Regions from separate parts of the Homo sapiens genome. Here region 1 is linked to region 2. The links come from fine-mapping of genetic effects on gene expression. A gene starts in region 2. The other region holds a variant in brackets. All regions are shown on one strand. Distances are between the middles of the regions. Region 1 holds the start of ZNF284 (zinc finger protein 284). Region 2 holds the start of ZNF226 (zinc finger protein 226).

Evidence for each region.
Region 1: its variant is fine-mapped to the expression of ZNF226 in whole blood (INTERVAL, PIP above 0.99).

What each region holds. Positions count from the first base shown.
Region 1 is chr19:44,067,915-44,079,462 of GRCh38, forward strand. It overlaps ZNF284 (zinc finger protein 284), which reads left to right and starts at 4,245. Exons shown (of 5, transcript NM_001037813.4): 1 at 4,245-4,377; 2 at 8,408-8,490. The coding sequence starts at 8,476. It overlaps ZNF223 (zinc finger protein 223), which reads left to right. Exons shown (of 5, transcript NM_013361.6): 5 at 1-85. The variant A/AT (reference allele first, on the strand shown) is at 5,631.
Region 2 is chr19:44,159,049-44,170,596 of GRCh38, forward strand. It overlaps ZNF226 (zinc finger protein 226), which reads left to right and starts at 6,052. Exons shown (of 6, transcript NM_001032373.2): 1 at 6,052-6,094; 2 at 6,709-6,759; 3 at 10,987-11,047. The coding sequence starts at 11,033. ZNF234 (zinc finger protein 234) reads left to right here. Exons shown (of 6, transcript NM_006630.3): 6 at 1-1,265. RefSeq lists enhancers at 5,744-5,893, 5,954-6,073.

The DNA of each region.
Region 1 (11,548 bases), 91 kb before region 2:
TGCACTCCAGCCAGGGCAACAGAGTGAGACCCTGTCTCCAAAAAAAAAAATTAAATAAATACCTTTCTTTGTTTCTAGACAAGCATCTCTCTGTGTTTCTGGAATTTTTTTTTTGAGTGTACATACATAGTGTGTTACAATTATATTCTTATTTTCTTCAGCAGTGAATATTTGCTGGTATTTTTCTATTTTATAATTGTATGCATTATTTTTAGATTTCTCAGTGAACATCAGAAACCCCATCTCTACAAGAAATACAATAATTAGCCAGTTGTGTTGGTGTATGTCTGTAGTCCCAGCTGGAGACTACTGGAGAGGCTGAAGTGGGAGGATCGCTTCAACCCAGGAGGCAGATATATATACAAATGGAATAGAAGTGAGAGTCCATAAAGAAACCCATACATCTAAGGCCACTTGATTTTCAAGAAGGATCCAAGATTACTTTATGGAGACAGAATAGTCTCTTCGACCAATACTGCTGGGACACCTATACACAGACACACAACATAATGAAGTTAGATTGTACCTCACCCTACACTTAAAAGTTAACTCAAAATTCATCAGTGACCTAATGTAACAGCTAAACTATAAAAGTATTAGAAGAAAACATAGAAGTAAATCTTCCTGACTTTATTTGGAATGGATTCTTCAATGAAACAACATAAGCAAAAGCAAATATAAATACCTAAATGGGACCTAGGTTTTAAAAAATGCTGTGCATACATGGACATTGTCATGAACATGAAAAGACCATACAGCATGAGTTCTACTATCCAGATTATATAAAGAATTCTTACAACTCAATAACAGAAACCACTCAATTAAAAAAATGGGCAAAGGGCTGGGTGCAGTGTCATGCCTGTAATTCCAGCACTTTGGGAGGCTGAGGTGGGCAGTTTACTTGAGGCCAGGAGTTCAAGACCAGCCTGGCCAACATGGTGAAAGTCTGTCTTTACTAAAAATACAACTAGCTGGATGTGGTGGCCTCCTGGGCTCAAACCATCCTTCCACCTCAGCCTCTTGAGCAGCTGAGACTACAGGCGTGCACCACAGCCTCTGGTTAAGTTTTGTATTTTTTTATAGAGATGAGGTTCCTCCATGTTGCCCAGGCTGGTCTCGAACTACTGCACTCAAGTAATCTGCCCACCTCAGCCTCCCAAAGTGCTGGGATTACAGGCATGAGCCACTGCACTCAGCCTAAAAAAAAAAAATCCTAATTTTTATGGGTACACATATGGAGTATATATGTTGATACAGGCATACAATGCATAATAATCATATCAGGGTAAATGGGGTATCTGTTACCACAAGCATTTATCAGATTTTTGTGTGTGTTAGAAACAATCCGTACTCGTTTAGTTATTTCAAATGTACAATAAATTATTATTGACTGTAACTCTGTTGTGCTATCAAATACCAGATCTTATTCATTCTATCTAAGCATAGTTTTGTACCCACTAACCATCCCCACTTCCCTCACCACCAACCTTAACTTTCCCTCCCTCTGGTAACCAACATTCTGCTCTCTGTCTCCATGCATTCAATTGTTTTAATTTTTAGCTCCTACAAATAAGTGAGAAGATGTGAAGTTTGTCTTTCTGTGCCTGACTTATTTCACTGAATGTAATGTCCTTCCAATTCCATCCATATTGTTGCAAATAACAAAATCTCATTCTTTTTGTGGCTGAATAGTACTCCATTGTGTATATGTCCATTTCCTGTATCCATTCACCTGTTGATGCATACTTAGGTTGCTTCCAAATTTTGGTTATTGTGAATAGTGCTGCAATAAACATTGCAGGGGAGGGTGCAGATATCACTTTGATATAGTTTTAATTTTTTGAGGAACCTCCATACTGTTCTCCGCAGTGGTTCTACTAATTTACATTCCCACCAACAATGTGCGAGGATTCCCTCCTTCACTCCTTCCACATCCTCACCAACATTTGATATTGCCTGTCTTTTGAATAAAAGCTATTTTAACTGGAGTGGGATATCTCATGGTAGTTTTGATTTGTATTTATCTGATGATCTATGATGTAGAGCACCTTTTCATATACCTGTTTGCCATTTGTATGCCCTCTTTTGAGAAATGTCTATTCAGATATTTTGCTCATTTTAAAATTGATTTATTAAATTTTTTCCTATTTGGTTTGAGCTTCTTATATTCTGGTTATTAATCCCTTGTCAGATGGATAGTTTGCAAATATTTTCTCCTATTGTGTGGGTTGTCTCTTCACTTTGTTGATTGCTTCCTTTGCTGTGCAGAAGCTTCTTAACTTGACGTGATCCCATTTGTCCATTTTTGCTTTGGTTGTCTATGCTTTTGGGGTATTACTCAAGAAATCTTTGCCCAGACCAATGTCCTGGAACATTTCCCCAATGTTTTCTTGTAGTAGTTTCATAGTTCGAGGTTTTAGATTTAAGTCTTTAATCCATTTCGATTTTATTTTTGTATATGGTGAACAACAGGGTTGAAGTTTCATTCTTCTATATGTGGATATCATGTTTTTCTAGCACCATTTATTGAAGAGACTGTCCTTTTCCCAATATATATACTTAGCACCTTTGTTGAAAATGAGCTCACTGTAGGTGTAGAAATTTATTTCTGGATTTTCTAGTTTACGCAGCACTAAAAAGAATGTACTGTACATGAAGTGATTTCTAGGATATGTTGTTACATGACCATAGAAGAGTTAGAAACGTGCTTTCTTTTAAGTAATAATGGAAAATAAGAAATCTACACATACTGATACGGTTTGGCTGTGTCTCCACCCAAATCTCATCTTGAATTATAGCTCCCATAATTCCCACATATCATGAAAGGGACCTAGTAGGAGGTAATTGAATCATGGGAGTGGGTCTTTCCCATGCTGTTCTCGTGATAGCAAGGACAGATAGAGGAGTGACTTTGAATAGAATGGGAGGCAGGTTTGCCCTAAGCGATTTCCAGCTTGAGATTTCCTTAGTGATTTTGGGGGCCCAAGATATTTTCCTTTCACAATACTAAGCAGTTTAATTTCTCTTAAATGTGGCATTTCCACGTCTAAAGAATATTAATATGAAAACTTTAAAAGTGGGAAGATAGCTTTTCCAGGAGGGCAATTGGCCCTCCATATTGGCCCTTGACAGGGCAGGAGCATCGCCATCTTGGACAAACACTGCCATTTTAAAGTTCGCGTTGATCAAAAACTGCCTAAATCCAAAGGGCATCAGCCTAATGGCTAAGGTCAGCATGACCATAAACCACAAATGACATCTCCAATCAGAAACATTCCAACCATAAGATAAACCCCTCCCTGACCAGAGACATGCCAGCACCGAGATAACCTCCCTTCCATTGGAGAGATGTCAGTCCCAAGATAACTTCCCCTCCAACCAGAGATATTCCAACCCCACAACAGACTTCTCCCCAATACAGAAACATTCTAAGCCTGTGGTAAGCTCTCTCTCCCTAAAGCCAATACATACTCTTAGTCCGTAAGAGAGAGCGCTCCTGACTGCAATCGGCCAGAAGGCCCTCTCGGTTTATTCTCCAAAACGAACCTGTCTTTGACTGTTGAGCCGCTTTTCGTGTTTTTTTTTTTTTTCTCTTTAACTCTTACAGCCCTCTTAAACACTTAAACTGTGGTTGTTTTTCTTGCCAAACCAGTGGTACAACAGTGTCTGGTTGTACCAGGGGCTGGTGCCCCACTCAATGCCTCTCCCAAACCATTTTTCCTGGCCCATTATTTAAGCTCTTAGATTTAGCCTCATACTATTAGCGTCTAGTATATTAGCCTTTCAGCCATCTCCTGACCGCTCCACAGTCACTCCCCGCTAACTCCTTGAAGATTGTATCTCCTTGCTTTGTTCTCTTTCAGTAACACTCCTGTCATCATGGGAGGCGTGTAGACTTCAGGAATTCCTGTCTATTCAATATTTTCTCTCGAGGACGCAGGGAGAGGGAAGGACCACTCTCAGGGCCACAGTCCATATTCCAAACCAGGCGCTTGGGTCTATGGGATTCATTCCTCGTGGGCATTGCAGGAAGTGTAGTCAAAGAGCACCGCGGAGTCCCACGCTTCCCGCCGGAAGGTGATACTATAGAACGTCTCCTTTGAGATTCAAGGAAGTGTAGCGCAGGAGATCTGTTGAATGACGAGCAAGTAGGCTCAGGACGGCGTATCCGGGGAATTCTGGGAAATGTAGTTCACACGCTGCGCGGGGTAGGGGCACTTCCGCTCCCGGGGGGCGAGGTTGCTGCAGTGCATTCGGTGGTAGTTTGGTGTCAGTCCTGTGTCTTGTCGGTCCTTCTAAACGTGTCCCCTTACGATGCTGGCTCGCAACCACCTGGAAGTTGACTAAGGGGAGAAGGAGTCTCGTTGGAAAACGGAGGTTTGGAGGGACAACGGCCTCTCTTTTCGTTCTTGTCAGCGGAGCCTTCTTGGTCTTGGGGCTGTCCTCGCGTCCCCGGGCATGAGGCTGGGGGTTGGGACTTGGTCGGGACGCGTCTCGCCTGGTTTGAGGGTTTTTGGGGCTCTCAGCTCGCTCAGTCCGCCTCCCTCCATCCCACCTGTGAGGCTACTTTCTCACAATTTAGGGTTGGGATGTTATTAATCTCCCTGTACCTCCCACTGCTGTTCTTTAAAATGGGGACTTTAGGACCATCCTAATGAAATCGTTTTGGGAACTGGAAGAGGTAACACAAATGAAAGCCTTAAAGCAGCCCCTCCCTTAGTGACTGGTGGTCTCTTCTTAGTGTTTATTTCCCACGAAGCCTGTCAGGTCCCCGGGTGGGGTCAGAGCTCCATCTGCAGGGATCCCCGCCCTTGTCTCTGATTCCTGCAGGACGCTGGGTGATCCCGGACGCTTCTGACCTCTTTTTAGGAAGGCGAGGGTTGTTTCCATTTCCACGAAGGGAGAGGAACATTTAACTTTTATGCCGGACGGCAATGCGGTCAGGGTGTTTCACAGCTTTCTCCTTCCCCAGCCTGATTCTCAAAAAGAGCTGCAGGGAGGGACTTCTTGGCTACTGAGGGCAAAGTTCCACGAGAGTGGTCCTTGGCTTTTTTTCTTTTACAGAGATGCTCACCCCGACCAAGAGTGTAGGATGTGTCCTCAGGCATGGGTGTTGATAATAATTAAGCCTCAATTGGTAACTTTATCCCAAGAGCTTTATACAAGTAGTCACATTTTCGCCACACCGTGGCTCTGTGGAGAGGTACTACTTTTTTCAGTTTTAAAGATGAGTGAGATACAAAGGAGCAGGAGTTATCTGAGAATAGTCACCTAAGCAGTAAGAGGTGGAGCTGCGGTTGAAACCTGGGCGTTACAGGTCAGAGCCTTAGTTGATAATCTTTTGGATACATTCTCATTGAGGCAGAGGAACTAGCTGGAATCTAGTGGGGAAAGCAAGCTAGGACTTGATTGAAGGGAGCCTTGAGAGCAAGGCTTATGGGCTTGGACTGTTCTGGGAGTTTATCAACTATTTCATTCATTAGAACTATTTCATTTATTACAAATATTTCACTTGTTATGCAGCGGTATGATTGTGGAGCGTTCAGAAATTGGAGAAATACGAGTAGTACAAGTTTATAATTACCCATGAATCCAGCATGTAAAGATAGTAACTGTTAAACTTCGAGTGC[A/AT]TTTTTTTTTTTTTTTTGAGACAGAGTCTCACTGTGTTGCCCAGGCTGGAGTGCAGTGGCACGATCTCGGCTCACTGCTAACTCCGCCTCCCAGGTTCACGCCATTCTCCTGCCTCAGCCTCCTGTGTGAGTAGCTGGGACCACAGGCGCCCGCCACCACGCCCGGCTAATTTTTTTGTAGTTTTAGTAGAGATGAGGTTTCACCGTGTTAGCCAGGATGGTCTTGATCTCCTGACCTCATGATCCACCAGCCTCGGCCTCCCAAAGTGCTGGGATTACAGGCGTGAGCCACCGCACCCGGTGCATTTCTTTTTGGTCTTTCTTTGGCATATTTGCATATTTATTTATAAACATTTAAACAAAATTTTATGATTAAAAAAATGTGTTTTCCCTTATGTGTTTAACTATGGAAATTTGGAAACACTGCCAAGAGGGAAATAGCTAGTGAACTTACATGTTATATCATGCTCATCCTAATTTATCTCATCGTTATCTCATTTTTTTTTTGGTAAATGTTTCCTGATATTGGCCGGGCATGGTGGCTCACGCCTGTAATCCCAGCACTTTGGGAGGCCGAGGTGGGCGGATCACCTGAGGTCGGGAGTTTGAGACCAGCCTGACCATCATGGAGAAACTCCATCTCTACTAAAAATACAAAATTAGCCAGACATGGTGACGCATGCCTGTAATCCCAGCTACTCGGGAGGCTGAGGCAGGAGAATCGCTTGAACCCGGGAGGCGGAGGTTGCAGTGAGCCAAGATTGCACCATTATACTCCAGCCTGGGCAACAAGAGCGAAACTGCATCCTCTGCCTCCCGGTCTCAAAAAAAAAAAATATTTAACGTTTTATTTTCATATCATTTGAAACCTATAGAAAAATTGCAAAAATAGTGTTAGAAATTCTCATATACTCTTTACCCAAATTTGCCAAATGTTTACATTTTTCCTGTTTGCTTTGTTCTTGCTGATCACCCAGATACCACCAGGAACATACCTGTAGCCAGAGACAGTTGCTTGTAGCTTTCTGCAGCAAAGAAGCCCACATTTCAAGATAATTGTGGGGTGTCTTGGTAAGAGGTGTTTAGAAAGGGCTGGTTATAGGGTTTCACATAACATGCTAGATACTATTAGATATTATACTGGCTAGGCATGGTGGCTTATGTCTGTAATTGTAGCACTTTGGGAGGCCGAGGCAGGTGGATCACTTGAGGCCAGGAGTTCAAGACCAGCCTGGCCAACATGGAGAAACCCCATCTCTACTAAAAATACAAAAATTAGCTGATTTGTCCACTGTGAAGTTACTTTTTTAAAATTTGAGGGGGCGTGCGCCTGTAATCCCAGCTATTAGGGAGGCTGACGCATAAGAATCATTTGAACCTGGGAGGCAGAGGCTGCAGTGAGCTGAGATGGCGCCCCTGCACTCTGATCTGGATGACAGAGTGAGACTCTGTCTCAAAAAAATAATTAAATATTATATTAAATAATATTGTTATCTATTACATATCACATCTGTTAAAAAGCTAATAATAGTAGTTGTAGTGTCATTTATTAGATAGTGTTGGATACCATATTACATAACGTTGTTATCTAATCTGCAGCTTCCATATTTAAATTTATTCAGTTTCTTCTTTTGGTCCTTATAACTATCCCTTGCCCCACTTTTTACCTGTAACCCCATTCAAAGTCCAATTTTATGCATTGTCTTTATTGTCACATTTCTATACTTTTGTTTAATCTAGAAGGATTCCACAGCCTTTGTCTTTTATATGCATGGTTTTTTGAAGAGTATAGGCAAGTTGTTTTGCAGAAAGACATTCATTTGGGGTTTGTCTGGTAAATTTCATGTTTACGTTTAGAGTATGCATGATTGGCAGGGATACCATAGTAGTGGTGAGATGTCCTTTTCATTGCAACCTAACAGTGTCCAAATGATGTTGGTTTGTCCCTTCACTGGTGATCTCAACTTTGTTCACTTGGCCAAGATGAAGTCTTTCAGATTTGTCCACTGTGAAGTTACTTTTTTTAAATTTTGAAAATAATAAAGTTCCTTATGGGGAGATACATGATTAGTGGACATTCTACTGTAAAGAAGAGTTTCCATTTCTCCCCCATTTATTCATTCCTTCATTCAACTATAAATATTCTATTGATATGGACTCAGAATTCAGTCTTACTGATTTCAATGACATGTAGATTAACAATTATTTTTTCCAATTCTATCAAGATGTATTTCACATATAGCTTTCACCCATTTCAGGCATGGAACTCCGTGATTTTTAGGAATTTTGTGAAGTGGAATAACCATGATCATGATTCAGTTTAGATCATTTTTATCTCCCAGTTGGACTCCTTGTGCCCATTTATAGTTAAACCTCATTCTCATCTCAAATGTGAAGCAACCACTAATCTACTTTCTCTATGATACATTTGCCTATTCTGAACATTTCATATAAATGCGATCACACAGTCCATGGGTTTTTGTGACTGCCTTCTTTCATTTAACATAATGTTTCCAGGGTTCATGCATGTTGTAGCATGAGTCAATATTTCATTTCTTTAAATTTCCAAGTAAGATTTCATTGTATGGATAGGCGACAATTTGTCCATTTACCCATAGGAAGGCATTTTGGTTGTGTGCAATTTTGGGTTATTATGAATAATGCCCCTGTGAACATTCAAGTGCTAATTCACAACACATGTTCATACTGTTGGGTGGCATCACTGACCACCCCTTCATGTCTCTTTTTTTTTTTTTGCCTTCCATGGCATGTTTCAGGCACAATTCTGTCTTCTCTTGAACTGCATAACTGAGAACTCTGCAAATTCCCCAAAGAAGGAGGAAAAATGACCATGTTCAAGGTGAGTAAGTCTGGTCTCTTTTGCTGTTCAGATTCTGTTTTGCTACTTAAGATTGTCACATGTTTTTCTCGGTCTTGGGAAGACTCAAGGAGAACAACAGTTATTTGTGCACCTGTTGTGTGCCAGATGCTTCCTTGTTTCTTTTGTGTTGAATTTGCGTTTGGATTTGATTTTGTTTACTTTTACCATTATTTATGTTATGAGTAGAAATTTAGTGGGAAGGAACAATTCTCCCATTTCACTACATCTTTTCTCACTAATTAGGCATTTTTATTTTCTCATGCTATTCCTCATGTATATTCATAACTGTATTTGTATTGATACTTATCTAATTTAAATTGTGTTCTTTGTGTTTAATATTATGTAATATTCATTATTTATGGTTGCATCATGTTCCCATTGAATTGATGCTCCTTTTTTTTTTTTTTTCCTCGAGACAGAGCCTTGCTCTGTTGCCCAGACTGGAGTGTGGTGGCGCAATCTCGGCTCACTGCAACCTCCGCCTCCCGGGTTCAAGCGATTCTCCTGCCCCAGCCTCTCAAGTAGCTGGGATTACAGGCGCTCACCACCACACTTGGCTAATATATGTATTTTTAGTAGAGACGGGGTTTCACCATGTTGGCCAGGCTGGTCTTGAACTCCCGGCCTCAAGTGGTCTGCCTGCCTCAGCCTCCCAAAGTGCTGGGATTACAGGTGTGCACCACTGCACCTGCCGATGTTTCTTTTTAACTACTTTATACTCACAGGCACTAGGAGCTCAGTTTTGAAAGAGTACTTTTGACATGTGCCACGTTGGTTGTTTTGTAGATAAAATATCCATATGTGGCATGGCACAGCAGGCTGTAACTGTGGCTTCACACAAGGATTTCTGGAGATTTTCACATAGGAAGAGCTAGCTTTTGTTTTCCCCATGCTTAAGTCATGCATTGTGTGTATGTTATTTACTGGTCTTTTCTTATTCCTTTATGTATTAAGGAGTTTGACCAAAATGCAGCATCCTGGGCTGCACATATATCGGTTTCGGTGAATCTTGCCAGTTGCTCCAGCAACATTTAGCAATTCAGTCTCAACTTTGTTTGATAATGCCCAGGGTTCTCGTACTTGAACCCTGGATGTAATCATTTTTCTGTCTTTTTTTTTTTTTTTTTTTTTTTTAGTTTTTTAGTTTTGGTAGCTTTAGTTTCAAATGTCCATGATATCAGAAGATTCTCTAGTCACTGTGTTCTATTCCTTTGTTTGTTCCTCAGAACAGCTGAATGATGCAGTTCTCAGCCTCATCTTCCTCTTAAATATGTGAAATATGAGAAACCTGCTGAGGTTCAGAGAGGAAACCTAGGGTCGGCATGTTAGCTATTTTGCTAAATTGAAAGAGAGAGAGAAGAAGAAAGAGGATTCTCCATTGAAGGACCTATGCCTTCTGGTATGGGTGTCTGGAGTGCCCTCTTGAGTGATGACAACCACTGGTGACATAGCTCCTCCCTGACCCCTCCTCGGGGGTCCTCTTCTCTTCCTGTTGTGCCACCTCCTCAGGTGCACCTAGTACTCCAGGCACCAAAGGACAGTGATTGCTACACTCACTATAGAAAATCTTTAAATTCCTAATGGCAAAGATGGCTTATAGAGTGTTACCAGGGAATATAACAGCCTAAGGTGAAAATATTTACCACTTTGATATCTAAAAAAGACATAATCCAAAATAAGAATCTTATGTACAGAATGGAGAAAAAAATTCAAAGGAATATGAATAAAGGACATTAATACATTAATTGGTAAATTTTAGAGAAGAAATAGAAGTGGCCAATACATATTTGAAAAGGTGATAGTATTATTTATATTCAAATACATGGGATTAATAAGGTGAATTCTCTCTAATGAGATTATCAAAATCACAGGAAATTTGATAATCTGCTTTTGGCTATTTTAAGAAAAACCAGGGTAATATATCCCCTTGAAAGATTTTGGAGTTTGAGAAAAAATTGAGATCTGACATATATGATCACAATTTTAAACATTCTTATTTTTTGACACTTTAATTTTCATTTGAAATTATTGTATTATAGTTTATTCTTATTCTTTAGAGACAGAGTTTTGCTCTGTTGCCTCGGATAGAGTACAGTGATGTAAGTGTAGCCCACTGCAGCCTTGAACCCCTGGGGTCCAGATCTTCCTGCCCCAGCCTCCCAAGTAGCTAGGACTACGGGCACGCACCACGATGCCTGGCTAGTTTTAAAAATTTATAAAGTTGGTGTCTTGCTGTGTTGCCTGGTCTGGTCTTGAACTCTTGAATTCAAGCAATCCCCCCACCTTAGCCTCTTAAAGCACTGGGATTACAGGTGTGAATCACTGCACCTGGTTTGAAATTATTAAATTAAACTAAATTATTATTTTATTTTATTTCTTTTTTGAAATAGAGTCTTGCTGTGTTGCCCAGGCTGGAGTGCAGTGGCGCAATCTTGGCTCACTACAACCTCCGCCTCCTGGGTTCAAACGATTCTTCTGTATCAGCCTCCCAAGTGTCTGGGATTATAGTCACGTGCCACCATGCTCGGCTAATTTTTGTATATTTTGTAGAGACGGAGTTTTGCTATGTTGCCAAGGCTGGTCTCGAACTCCAGAGGTCAAATGATTTGCTTGTCTCGGCCTCCAAAAGTGCTGGGATTACAGGCATGAGCCACCATACCTGGCCAAAATTATTTTCAATGATCAGACGGGAGAGTAAGGTCCACATACATGATTTTCTTTGCAGGATTGGTATTAATGAAAACTACATAAAATTAAATATTCATTATTTAGAATAAAGATAGATCATCAGTTCCCTGTAATAGTATGCAGACATGAAATGAAATAGATAACTATAATGAAAGTTATAATAAAAAATCCAAAGAAATACGAATAAAGGACATTACCAGCCAGGTGCGGTGGCTCACGCCCATATTCCCAGCACTTTGCGGGGCTGAGGTGGGCAGATCACCTGAGGTCGGGAGTTTGAGACCAGCCTGACCAACATGGAGAAACCCCATCTCCACCGGGTGTGGTGGCTCATGCCTGTAATCCCAGC
Region 2 (11,548 bases):
ATTAATATGATATTACTCTTTTACAGTTGACACCTGTCCTCTCTGTAGTCTCTTCTCTCAAATTTGGTTCTTATTGAGAGCCTGTCTAGTTTCCCAAAGGTTTTATAAAACATAAGTTGAAGTACCTTTATTTTTAATTTTATTTTTGAGACAGGACCTCGCTCTGTCACCGAGGCTGGAGTGCAGTGGCATAATCATGGCTCACTGCAGCCTCGTCCTCCCAGGCTCCATCCATCTGCCCATCTCTCCCTCTGAGTAGCTGGGACCACGGGCACGTGCCACCACACCCAGCTAATTTTTGTATGTTTGGTAGAGAAAGGGTTTCACCACATTGCCCAGGCTGGTCTTGAACACCTGAGCTCAAGCAATCCAACCTCCTTGGCCTCCCAGTGTTAAATTACAGGCGTAAGCCACCACACCCGGCCAAGTTGAAGTATATTTTGTGATTTTTCTGACAGTGCAGACTGAAAAAAATTTAATTAACCTGACAAGAGTTTACTGAATATCACACAATTGAGTTTTTAATCCATTAATGTTAAGGCAGGGGTTTACTCTAACACTTTTAAAGTGTCAGAAGTAGTTGCCAATGCCAAATTTTTATCAGCCCCCTTGAATTTATTTGATTTCTGACTTTCCACATTTCCATCCAGACTTTGACATGATTGCCGTCTAATAACTGTAGCATTCTCTTATTAAAACTTCTGGCTGGGTGTGGTGGCTCATGCCTGTAACCCCAGCACTTTAGGAGGCCAAGGCAGGTGAATCACCTGAGGTCAGGACTTAGAGACCAGCCTGACCAACATGGTGAAACCCCATCTCTACTAAATACAAAAATTAGCTGGGCATGGTGGCAGGCGCCTGTAATCCCAGCTACTCAGGAGGCTGAGGCAGGAGGATTGCTTGAACCCGGGAGGCGGAAGTTGCAGTGAGCCGAGACTGCGCCATTGCACTCCAGCTTGGGTGACAGAGCAAGACTCCGTCTCAAAAAAAAAAAAAAAAACTTCTGAGGTAGGGGCTGTACCATATTTTTGCCCCACACCCATTAAGCGAATACCAAAAACAACTTGTGGAAATTTGATAATTTTATCAAATTTATTATTTGGGCAGGATTGGCATTTACCATGCTTTTCCCTATTGCTGGCAGTAAAACATGGGTTTAAGGAAGAGTGTTTTTCAGAATTTACACTGTATATCTCTGATTTGGAAGTTATATAATTGGAATTTATGATTATGAGATTAAAATACCAAAAAGACTAAGTAACATATCAGTGATGTCAATGAATTGTTTTAAATGGAAGTGTGTGTTCCTCTATAATAATTTGACTTTTGATATTTTCATTCCTGTATTGACCTGAAGCTATTAAAATGGCGGCAGGTATCTGTAATGACAGGATAAAGAAAAAATATGGGCTTTGGAAGATCATAGACTATTGCCTTTGTAGCATAATGAAATCTATACATTTTTATGAGTGAGTGTGTATGTACATGCATAAGATAATATGTAAAGGATACTTTTTTTTTTTTAGCAATTTTCTCTTGCAATGAGCATTTTGTGGTATTTTTCCATTTTATAATTCCATAAATTACATTTTAATTTCTTATTGAACATCAGTATTACCAAAGCAGTAAATTATGTACATTAGAATTTTAAAAAGTGCTATATGATAATCCCTTCAAAATATGATTGTTCTATATTGTTATATGGCACATAAGATCATAATTAATAGATTCTGGAAGCCAATTTTAAAAACAAAAAAATTCTCTGAATATGTGGATAAATGGATGAGTGTGAACAATTGTATCTTTGCAATTAATGTCTGCTACACTTCTTTTTTTTTTTTGAGATGGAGTCTTTCTCTGTTGCCCAGGCTGGAGTGCAGTGGTGCAATCTTGAATCACTGCAACCTCCGCCTCGCGAATTCAAATGATTATCCTGCCTCAGCCTCCTGAGTAGCTGGGATTACAGGGGCGTGCCACTATGTCCAACTCAGTTTTTTTTTTTTTTTTTTCCCCGAGACGGAATCTCACTCTGTTGCCAGGCTGGAGTGCAGTGGCGCAATCTCAGCTCACTGCAACCTCTGCCTCCCAAGTTCAAGCAATTCTCCTGCCTCAGCCTGCTGAGTAGCTGGGACTACAGGTGTGCACCACCACGCCCAGCTAATTTTTGTATTTTCAGTAGAGACGGGGTTTCACCATGTTGGCCAGGATGGTCTCGATCTCTTGACCTTGTGATCCGCCCTCGGCCTCCCAAAGTGCTGGGATTACAGGTGTGAACCACCGTGCCTGGCCTAAATTTTGTATTTTTAGTACAGACGAGGTTTCACCATGTTGGCCAGGCTGGTCTCGAGCTCCTGACCTCAAGTGATCTGCCCGCCTCGGCCTCTCAAAGTGCTGGGATTACAGGCATGATCCACTGTGCCCGGCCTTGCTTGCTACATTTTTTAAAGCATTAATCTGTAACACAGAGAGAATCCTGGAAATGAAAACAAAGTGGTATACATATGTTAGGGAGGTATGTTTAAAAAGGTTCACTGAGGAAAAAGTGTGCATAAGAGCAGAATATAGTGCAATCCACTTACTGGATGTGGAACCAGTAAGGACAAAGAGTGGGTTTGAATGACATTCCATATTCCTTGGACATGATGGTGATATTTTCAGTGTAGTTGATTAAAGCATGGGTCCCTAACCCCTAGGCCACAGACCCTGTTAGGAACAGGGCCAGACAGCAAGAGGTGAGCAGTGGGCAAGTGAGCAAAGCTGAGTTCTGCCTTCTGTCAGATCAGTGGCATGAACCCTATTGTGAACTACGCATGTGAAGGATCTAGGTTGCAGCCAGGCGCAGTGGCTCATGCCTTTAATCTCAGCACTTTGGGAGGCTGAGGTGGGCGGATCACCTGAGGTCACGAGTTGGAAACCAGCCTGGCCAATATAGTGAAACCCCATCTGTACTAAAAATACAAAAATTAGCCAGGCATGGTGGCAGGTGCCTGTAATCCCAGCTACTTGGGAGACTGAGGCAGGAGAATCACTTGAACGCAGGAGATAGAAGTTGCAGTGAGCCGAGGTTGCGCCATTGCACTCCAGCCTGGGCAACAAGAGCGAAACTCTTTTTTTTTTTTTAAAGAAAGGATCTAAGTTGCTCGCTCCTTGTGAAAATAAAATGATAAATGTAATGTGCTTGAATCATCCCCAAACCATCCCCATCCCCCCACCTCACCTTGTGGAAAAATATTGTCTTCTGCAAAGCTGGTCCCCTGTGCCAAAAAGGTTGTGAACTGCTGGATTAAAGGGCTTTACTCAATAAATTATATCTAACTGGGGAGACTTTTTTCCACTATTGATTTTCTTCAGTATACCTTCACTGGATGCTTGCTACTCATTAAGGTCCATGCTACCTCAATGTGCATGGTATGCTGGGGATTGATAATACCACCTTCACATTCTTGTAATTCACTAGGAGGACTCAAGACACCCTATGTTATCATAGTCACTATGATTTATTGTAGTAAAAGATACCAAGTCAGTTGAGCAAAGGGAAAATGTGCATGGGATGAAGTCCAGAAGAAATCAGGTACAGGCTTCCAATAATCCACTCCCTGTAGAATCATTCATGATGTACTGTTTTTTCAGCATTGAAACATGTGAAATGTCTACCCAGTAAGCTCAATGGAGACTTAGTGCCCTAGGCACTACGTTGTGTTTTGTTTTGGAACTGGTCACATAGGCCAGCTTGGGCCAAAATTCTAGATTCCCAGAAGGAATTCAGCATAAATCACATTATACAAATAGCCGGGGCATGGTGAGCCACTCTCATCAGAGAATTGTGGAAATCCTCCTGAAATTCAAGTTCCCAGATACCAGTCAAGGGCTAACCTTATATCTTGCGCTGCTATAACAGAATACCACAGATTAGGTAATTTATAAACAATATAAATTTATCTGTCATAGTGCTTGAGGCTGGGAAGTCCAAGGTCAAGATGCTGGCAGGTTTAACATCTGGTGAGGGCTGCTGCTGTCTGCTTCCAATATGGCATCCAGTTGCTGCATCCTCTGGAGGAGACAGATGCTATGTCCTCATATGGTGGAAGTGATGAAAAAGCAAGAAGGGATTAAGTTTTAACAAGGGAACACCATCAAACTATAGCATGTTGCAAGCAGGCCTTTTAAGTACAACAGTCTCAGGCCTATGTTAACTCTTTTCTGAACAAAGGGCTTCAGAAATCCAGTACCTATATTCTTTTCTTTCTTTTTCTTTCTTTGTATCACCAGATACCACATTAGGTCATCTTCCTTCAAGGTAATTTGTAACCAAAACCAGTAGACTAAACCAAATAATTTCTTGCCCCTCTGCCCCATAACTGATAAGACTGTAGGTACAGTCTACATCTACCCTCCTCATGACCAGAGTTTTCAGGTTAGTCACAAGACAGCTGTAGAAGCTGGGAGCTATCTGGCTTTGTTTTTGGTTGGTTGTTGTTTGTTCACAGTCAAGAGGAGAGAACTGTTTCATTTGTAATATTGTATAGTTCATGTCTCCCAAAATGCATGGCTACTCTAACTCCCATTCACACACAAGATTAATTCCTTAGCTCTTACCTAGTATGCCCAGCCCTTGTGGGATCATTCAGTTTTTTCATCTGTGGGCCTAACTTGCCTGTTCATCTTTGGCCGTTGGGATTTCCCTGTCTTAGCTTTGAGTTTAGCTACATTTTAACGCTTTAGGGGATATTGTCACATAACATTTTTCTATCTTTGAAAAGATCCACAATATTATGTAATGATTACCACTATCTAATCCTAGAACTCTTTCATCTGCTCCCAAAAGAAATCCCCTACATGAGCTGGGTGTGGTGGTGCATGCCTGTAGTCTCAACTACCCAGGGGGCTGAGGCGGGAGGATCACTTGAGCCCAAGAATTTAAGGCTGCAGTGTGCTATGATCATGCCTGTGAATAGCCACTGTACTCCATTCTGGGAAACATAACAAGACGCTGTCTCTAAAAAAGTAAGAAAAAAAAAACCCTACATATTGACAGTCACTCCCCATTCCCAACTACATCTCCCCAGCCTTGGAGACAACTAATTTACTTTCTGTCTCTATGGACTTGCCTATTCTGCACATTTGATATAAATGGAATCATACCATATATGGTATCTTGTGTCTGGCTTCTTTCATTGGACATAATGTCTTCAGAGTTCATCTATGTTATAACATGAATCAATATTTTGTTCATTCACATTACTAAATAATATTGCATTATATGGCTAGACCACATTTTGTTTATCCACTCATCAGCTGATGGACATTGGGTCTTCTCCACTTTTTGACTATTATGACTAATGCTGCTATGAACTTTTTTAGAACAAGTTTTTGTGTGGATATCTTTCAGTTCTCCTGGGTATTTACTTAGGAGTGAAATTGCTGGCACATAAGCCCCAGATCGGGTGCCAGCAGATTCAGTGTCTGGTGAGGTCCCGCTTTCTAAGTCATACATGGTCCTTCTGGCTGTGTCCTCACATAACTAAAGAGGCAAAGGAGCTCCCTCAGGCCACTTATAAGAGAGCATTAATCCTATTCATGAGGGCATTGCCCTCTTGATCTGATCACGTCCCATAGGTTCCACCTCCTAATATCTTCTTGGGAGTTAGGATTTAAACATACGAATTTGGTGGGGGCCATAAACACTCAGACCATAATAATACCTAAAGAGAAGTGAGGGATTCTGGGAAATGAAAACCAGGAGCTCAAGGTAGTTGGACACTTCCACATCAGAAGGCTTGGACATTCCGGAAGTGTAGTCCAGGAGGGCGGTACTGTTCTGTTTTTCCCCCAACTCCAGCATTCTGTGATATGTAGTCCGGAGTTCCGTGTAGTCGCGCATAGCTCAGCTGCAGTAAGGCTGTAAATGTTTCCCCTGCGGAATCCTGGGAACTGTAGGTCCAATCGTTCTAGGTAGTTGTAGGCACTTCCGGCTCGAGGAAGGCAGTGCTGTGGAATTCTGGGAAGCGTAGTCCAGGTCCTCCTGATACTCGCAGGCACTTCCGCCCAGGAAGACGACGTAGCAGCCATCTTTTCCCTGGCTTTGGTGATTCAGGTCAGCTTCTCAGGAACCTTTCAAACTTCCCCGAAATGCACTTGTGGTCAGCAGCTAGCGGTCTTTTGTTTGGGGAAAAAAAGGAGTAGCGGCTAAGAGCGGAGGTTTGAGGGGCCAGGATGCTGTTTTGCGTTTCCCTGGGCGGAGCTTGTTAGAATTGGGGGCGTACTGGCTTCGGGCGGCTGGGGTGATGCTTCGTCGGGTTTGAAGGTCTCTCGGGCTGTTCGCTCCCTCATTGTGACTCCCCCACCTAATGAGCCAGCCCTACCACTTCATACAGTATCACATTGAGCGAGTTAGTTAATCCCCGTGCCTTCGTTTGCTGTTCTGAAGGAAAATAAAAGCAAAAACTTCCTAATAGAATGTTTTGAGAGAAAACGAGGTAATACAAAAAGTGTAAAACTGCCTGGCACGTGAATTACCAATACTACTGTAATTTTCCTAGAAACTCCCGTTCTGTGGCGAAATTCTGTGAGTCCATGAAGCTGGATTGTCCCTGACCTCTTTTGAGGAAGGAGAGGGTTGCTTCTAACTGGTCCTGGGAGATGCCACTGTGATGTATCCGGGATGAAGACACAATCCTGGTTACTTCATAGCCTGTTTTTCTTCCCCAGCCCTGACTTCTCAAAAAGCACTGCACAGAGGAGGAGGCAGCAGAACCCCATGTGAGTAAGACTTGTTGTTATTCTTGTTTTATTCACATAAATCAGAGAATGTGTGGGGTCATGTATTTGGGCATGAGAAGTGATTATAATTTAGCGTTAGTTGCTAAGTTCCATTCTAAGGGGTTTATACAAATGAACACCTTTCCACTATACAGTGGCTCTGTGAAGTGATACTCTTTTTCCGAGGAGACTGAGACATAAGAACATAACTTGTTTGCTCATAGCCACCTAGCTAGTAGGAGGCAGAGCTAGCATTGAAACCGAGGCAGTCTGAGTCTAGACCTGAGTCTTCTTTGGTATGTTCTGCATGAGCCATAGGCAGCTGGCTAGTATCATGTGAAAATAGGTTGGGACTTCACTGTGGGGACTTTGCTCAAGGTCTGGGCTATTCTATGACTTTTAAAAAATAGTGGCTGGGCACAGTGGCTGACGCCTGTAATCCCAGCACTTTGGGAGTCTGAGGCGGGCAGATCACTTGAGGCCAGGAGTTTGAGACCAGTCTGGCCAACATGGCGAAACCCCATCTCTACTAAAAATACAAAAATTAGCCAGGCGTGGTGGCCAACACCTGTAATCCCAGGAGTTTGGGAAGCTGGGGCAGGAGAATCGCTTGAACCCAGGAGGCGAGGCTGCAGTAAGCTGAGATCACACCGGTGCACTCCAGCCTCGGCAACTGAGCAAGACTCTGTCTCAAAAAAAGAAAAGAGTTTTTAAAAATAGTTTTCTCAATTATTAGTTTTATTTGTTTCAAATAATATAGAGGTAACACATAATCATGGAAAACACAGAAATACATTTAAAAAATGTAAATTCCCCATGACCTTAGGGTATAAAGATAACAACTATAGTTTAGTGCCTTTCTGTCAAGTTTTTCTTGTATATATTTCTGTTTATTAGGGGCTGTTTTGGGAGAGGGACTGAGTACAGTGCAACACTACTCAAACTGTGGTTCACAAAGCAGCAACATTGGCATCACCCAGGTAGAAAGGCTCATTCTTGAGCCCTACCGAAGGCCTTCTGATTTAGCATTTTTGCAGATAGGACCCAGAAATCTGCATTTCAACAAGATCCCAAGGTGAGCGAGATGCATGTTAAAGTTTGAGAAGCTCAGGAAAAGGTCTTATCTGGAAACTCAGGACTAGAAAACTGACCCTGCCAGATGTCACAGATAAAACTGAGCTGGCCATACTAGAACCCTACTCAGTCCAGTGATTTTTCTTTCCCACTAAATATTAACTGTCAAGTTTCTTTGCAAAAACCATGACATGAGTAGAAGGCAGCTGTCAAGTCTAGAGTCAAAATGGAGAAACTCAGAGTCCTGAAGATCTATTTCTCCCAGGCTTTGGGGAGTAGATTCCTTCCCATCTTTTGTACTGGAGGCCTTCTGCCTGAAGTGGGAAGATCAGCTACCTATTTATTGTTAATTAACGTTAGATATTATTGCCATAGTTGTCATCATCTCGTCATCGTTATTATTCTGATTAATGACTTTCCTAATTTCTTTAACTTTTTTTTTTTTTTTTTTTTTGAGGCAGAGTTTCACTTTTGTTGCCCAGGCTGGAGTGCAATGGCGTGATCTCGGCTCACTGCAACCTCCGCCTCCCAGGTTCAAAAGATTCTCCTGCCTCAACCTCCCAAACATCTGAGATTACAGGCACCCGCCACCACACCGGCTAATTTTTTTGTATTTTTAGTAGCGATGGGGTTCCACCATGTTTGCCAGGCTGGTCTCGAACTCCTGACCTCAGGTGATCCACCCACCTCGGCCTCCCAAAGTGTTGGGATTATGGGCATGAGCCACCGTGCCCAGCCAACTTTTTTTAAAAATATAATTTCAAACTTGTAGAAAAGCTGCAAAAATGATAACGTAAGGAAATCTCATATACTCTACACCCAGATTCACCAGTTGTTACGTTTGTTTGTTATGTTATGTTTTCCCTGTGTGCTCTGTTGATGACCATCAGCCATCACCAGGAACATACCTGTAACCAACAACAATTGTTTGTTTTAGCTTGCTGCATCCAAGGAGCCCACACATGCATGGGGTGTCTTGGTAAGAGGCAATTAGGAGGACCCTGGTTATAGGGTTTTGGTTTATGTTAGATGAGTTGGGGAGAGTTTTAGGCAATGGGTTTGTTCTGGATTGGATGCTGTGAAGAAGCAGTAGTAATTTGATCAGACTATTGTAATTTTTATGTTGGAGGTGGGGAAATAACAAGACTGGAGTTGTCACTGATAACAAAGTGGTCATGTTAGATGGAAGAGGCAATTATTTGGCTATTTTTATCAATGTAGGATGTATTTCTCTCTGTGTTACAAGCTGTTTTGTTTTTTTCTTTTTCACCATGATCACTGAGTAGACCTGTCTCATTCTTGTTGATAAATTGGAAACACCAGGTTCTGGTTGTTGCTGCTGTTGTCAAAGTAGTTTTTTGTTTTGTTTTTTTTTTTGTCTTTTTGCTTTCACAACTTTGTCATACTTATATTTTGTTTTTGTCTTTTTGCTGAAGTATTTGAGAGCAAGCTAGAGATAGTGATGAAAATGAAATTAGTTACATTGATAACTTACTGTTATCTAACCCACAGTTTGTATTTAAACTTACTCCATTTTCCCATTAAAGACTTTGAAAGTAATTTCTTCCCCCAGATGAGTTTCCAGTCTAATTGTATGCATTGCACTTAGTTTTGGTTTCATTAGTCACCTTTAGTCTAGAATGATTCCTCAGACTTTATTTCTTTTTTGCTCTCGATATCTTTCTAGAGTATTGAGAAATTATTTGTAAAATGTTCTTATTTTTTTGTTTCCTTAATATTTATTCATGATTAAATTCAAGCTATGCATTGTCAGCAGAGATGCCATAAAAGTAGGGAGGCATCCTTCTCAGTGCATCATAGGAGTCAAATGTTGGTTTGTGGGTTTGTCCCACTAGTGGTCTCAACTTTGTTTTTTTGGATAAAATGTCTGCCAGGTTACCTTTTTCCTTTTGCACTTAATACTTTGAGACTATGTAGCCATCTTATTCCTCACCAAACTCACCAGTTTTTAGCAGCTATTGATGATGTTCTAGTTATCTTTCATTCTACCTTTATTAGTTTATGTGTTCTACTATAGGAGCTTTCTTTTGTCACCCATTTATTTATTACACATTCTTTTGTTTATAACAATATAGACTCAGGTTCCTCCCTTTTCCTTTTTTTTTTTTTTTTTTTTTTTTTTTTGAGACAGAGTCTCACTCAGTCGCCGAGGCTGGAGTGCAGTGGGGCAATCTCAGCTGACTGCAACCTCCGCCTCCTGGGTTCAAACAATTCTTGTGCCTCAGCTTCCCAAGTAGCTGGGATTACAGGTGCCTGCCACCATGTCCAGCTAATTTTTGTCTTTTAGTAAAGACAGGGTTTCATCTTGTTGGCCAGGCTTGTCTTCAACTCCTGACTGTAAGTGATCTGCTTGTCTTGGTTTCCCAAAGTGCTAGTAGGATTACAGGCATGAGCCACTGTGCCTGGCCAGGTTCCTGCATTTTTAATTTAAGTTAGGTATGGATTGTCAAACGGTGTTTTTTAATTGCGGTATCTTCGGTTTTATTAGTTCAGTGTTGGCAAATTATTGGAAAGACGACAAGATGTTTTTCAGAAGTTATAAGACACTTTCACGTGACATAGCAACAACCTGTGAACTCCAACTATCTTATAATATTCTGTTGGTGGAAATTATATTTTTAAGGATAATTTCAAACCATAGACCATCTTCTACTTATTGCAGTTGCAAATAAATAAGATACCTGACTGTGTTGTAAGAGCTTTCTACCTTCCAGCAATCCGATGAGGTTGGTACTGTTATTCTTTACCACTTGCAGATGACAGAAGTAAGGCAAAGAGATGTTAATAGTTTCCCCAAGGTGACGCTTTTAGTGTCAGGATTTTAACCCATGCATATCAATTCCAGGCCTACTGTACTTATATTGTCTCAATTTACGCTGTACTCAAAATAAGAATTACTGGCGTGCAATTACAGGCACATGGGCAGTGAGGCCACTGTGTGGTTAGCCTGGTTCTGAACTACTGCTGAAAGGGGTAGTTGGATATCTGGGATCCATGTCATAATCTGCTTAAAAGCCACATAAAGCTGCAGCCACCCCAAGAAGCACACACCTTTGCTAATTCCTAAAGAGCAGCCACGTGCATTAGCAACATACTTACCCAGTTTTGATTTATTTCTCTCTTCTTTCCTAGTTCAGCTTCTTAGGACTCTGCACTTCCCCAGAAGGAAGAATTAAAAATGAATATGTTCAAGGTGAGTAGAGCTTGCCTTTCCCAGCTGTTAAAAATACCATTTTAGTACTCAGAGATGGAACCAGGTTTTTCTTTTTCAAGTAAGAGTCAAGGCATCTGATGACCTGTTGAGTGTGCTAGGTGCTTATTTTGTTCCGTTTGAGTTTAGCTGGTTTTGGTTTTAGTTTTATTTCGTCATTTTTATTTTACAAATAAAGGTAGAAAAATTAATAGAAATGATGGGTGGGCACAGTGGCTCACACCTGTAATCCCAGCACTTTGGGAGGCCGAGGCAGGGGGTGGGATCACTTGAGGTCAGGAGTTTGAGACCAGCCTGGCCAACATGGTGAAACCCCATCTTTACTAAAAATACAAAAATTAGGCCGGGCATGGTGGCTCACGCCTGTAATCCCAGCACTTTGGGAGGCTGAGGCGGGTGGATCACAAGGTCAGGAGATCGAGACCATCCTGGCTAACATGGAAACCCCATCTCTACTAAAAATACAAAAAATGAGCCAGGCGT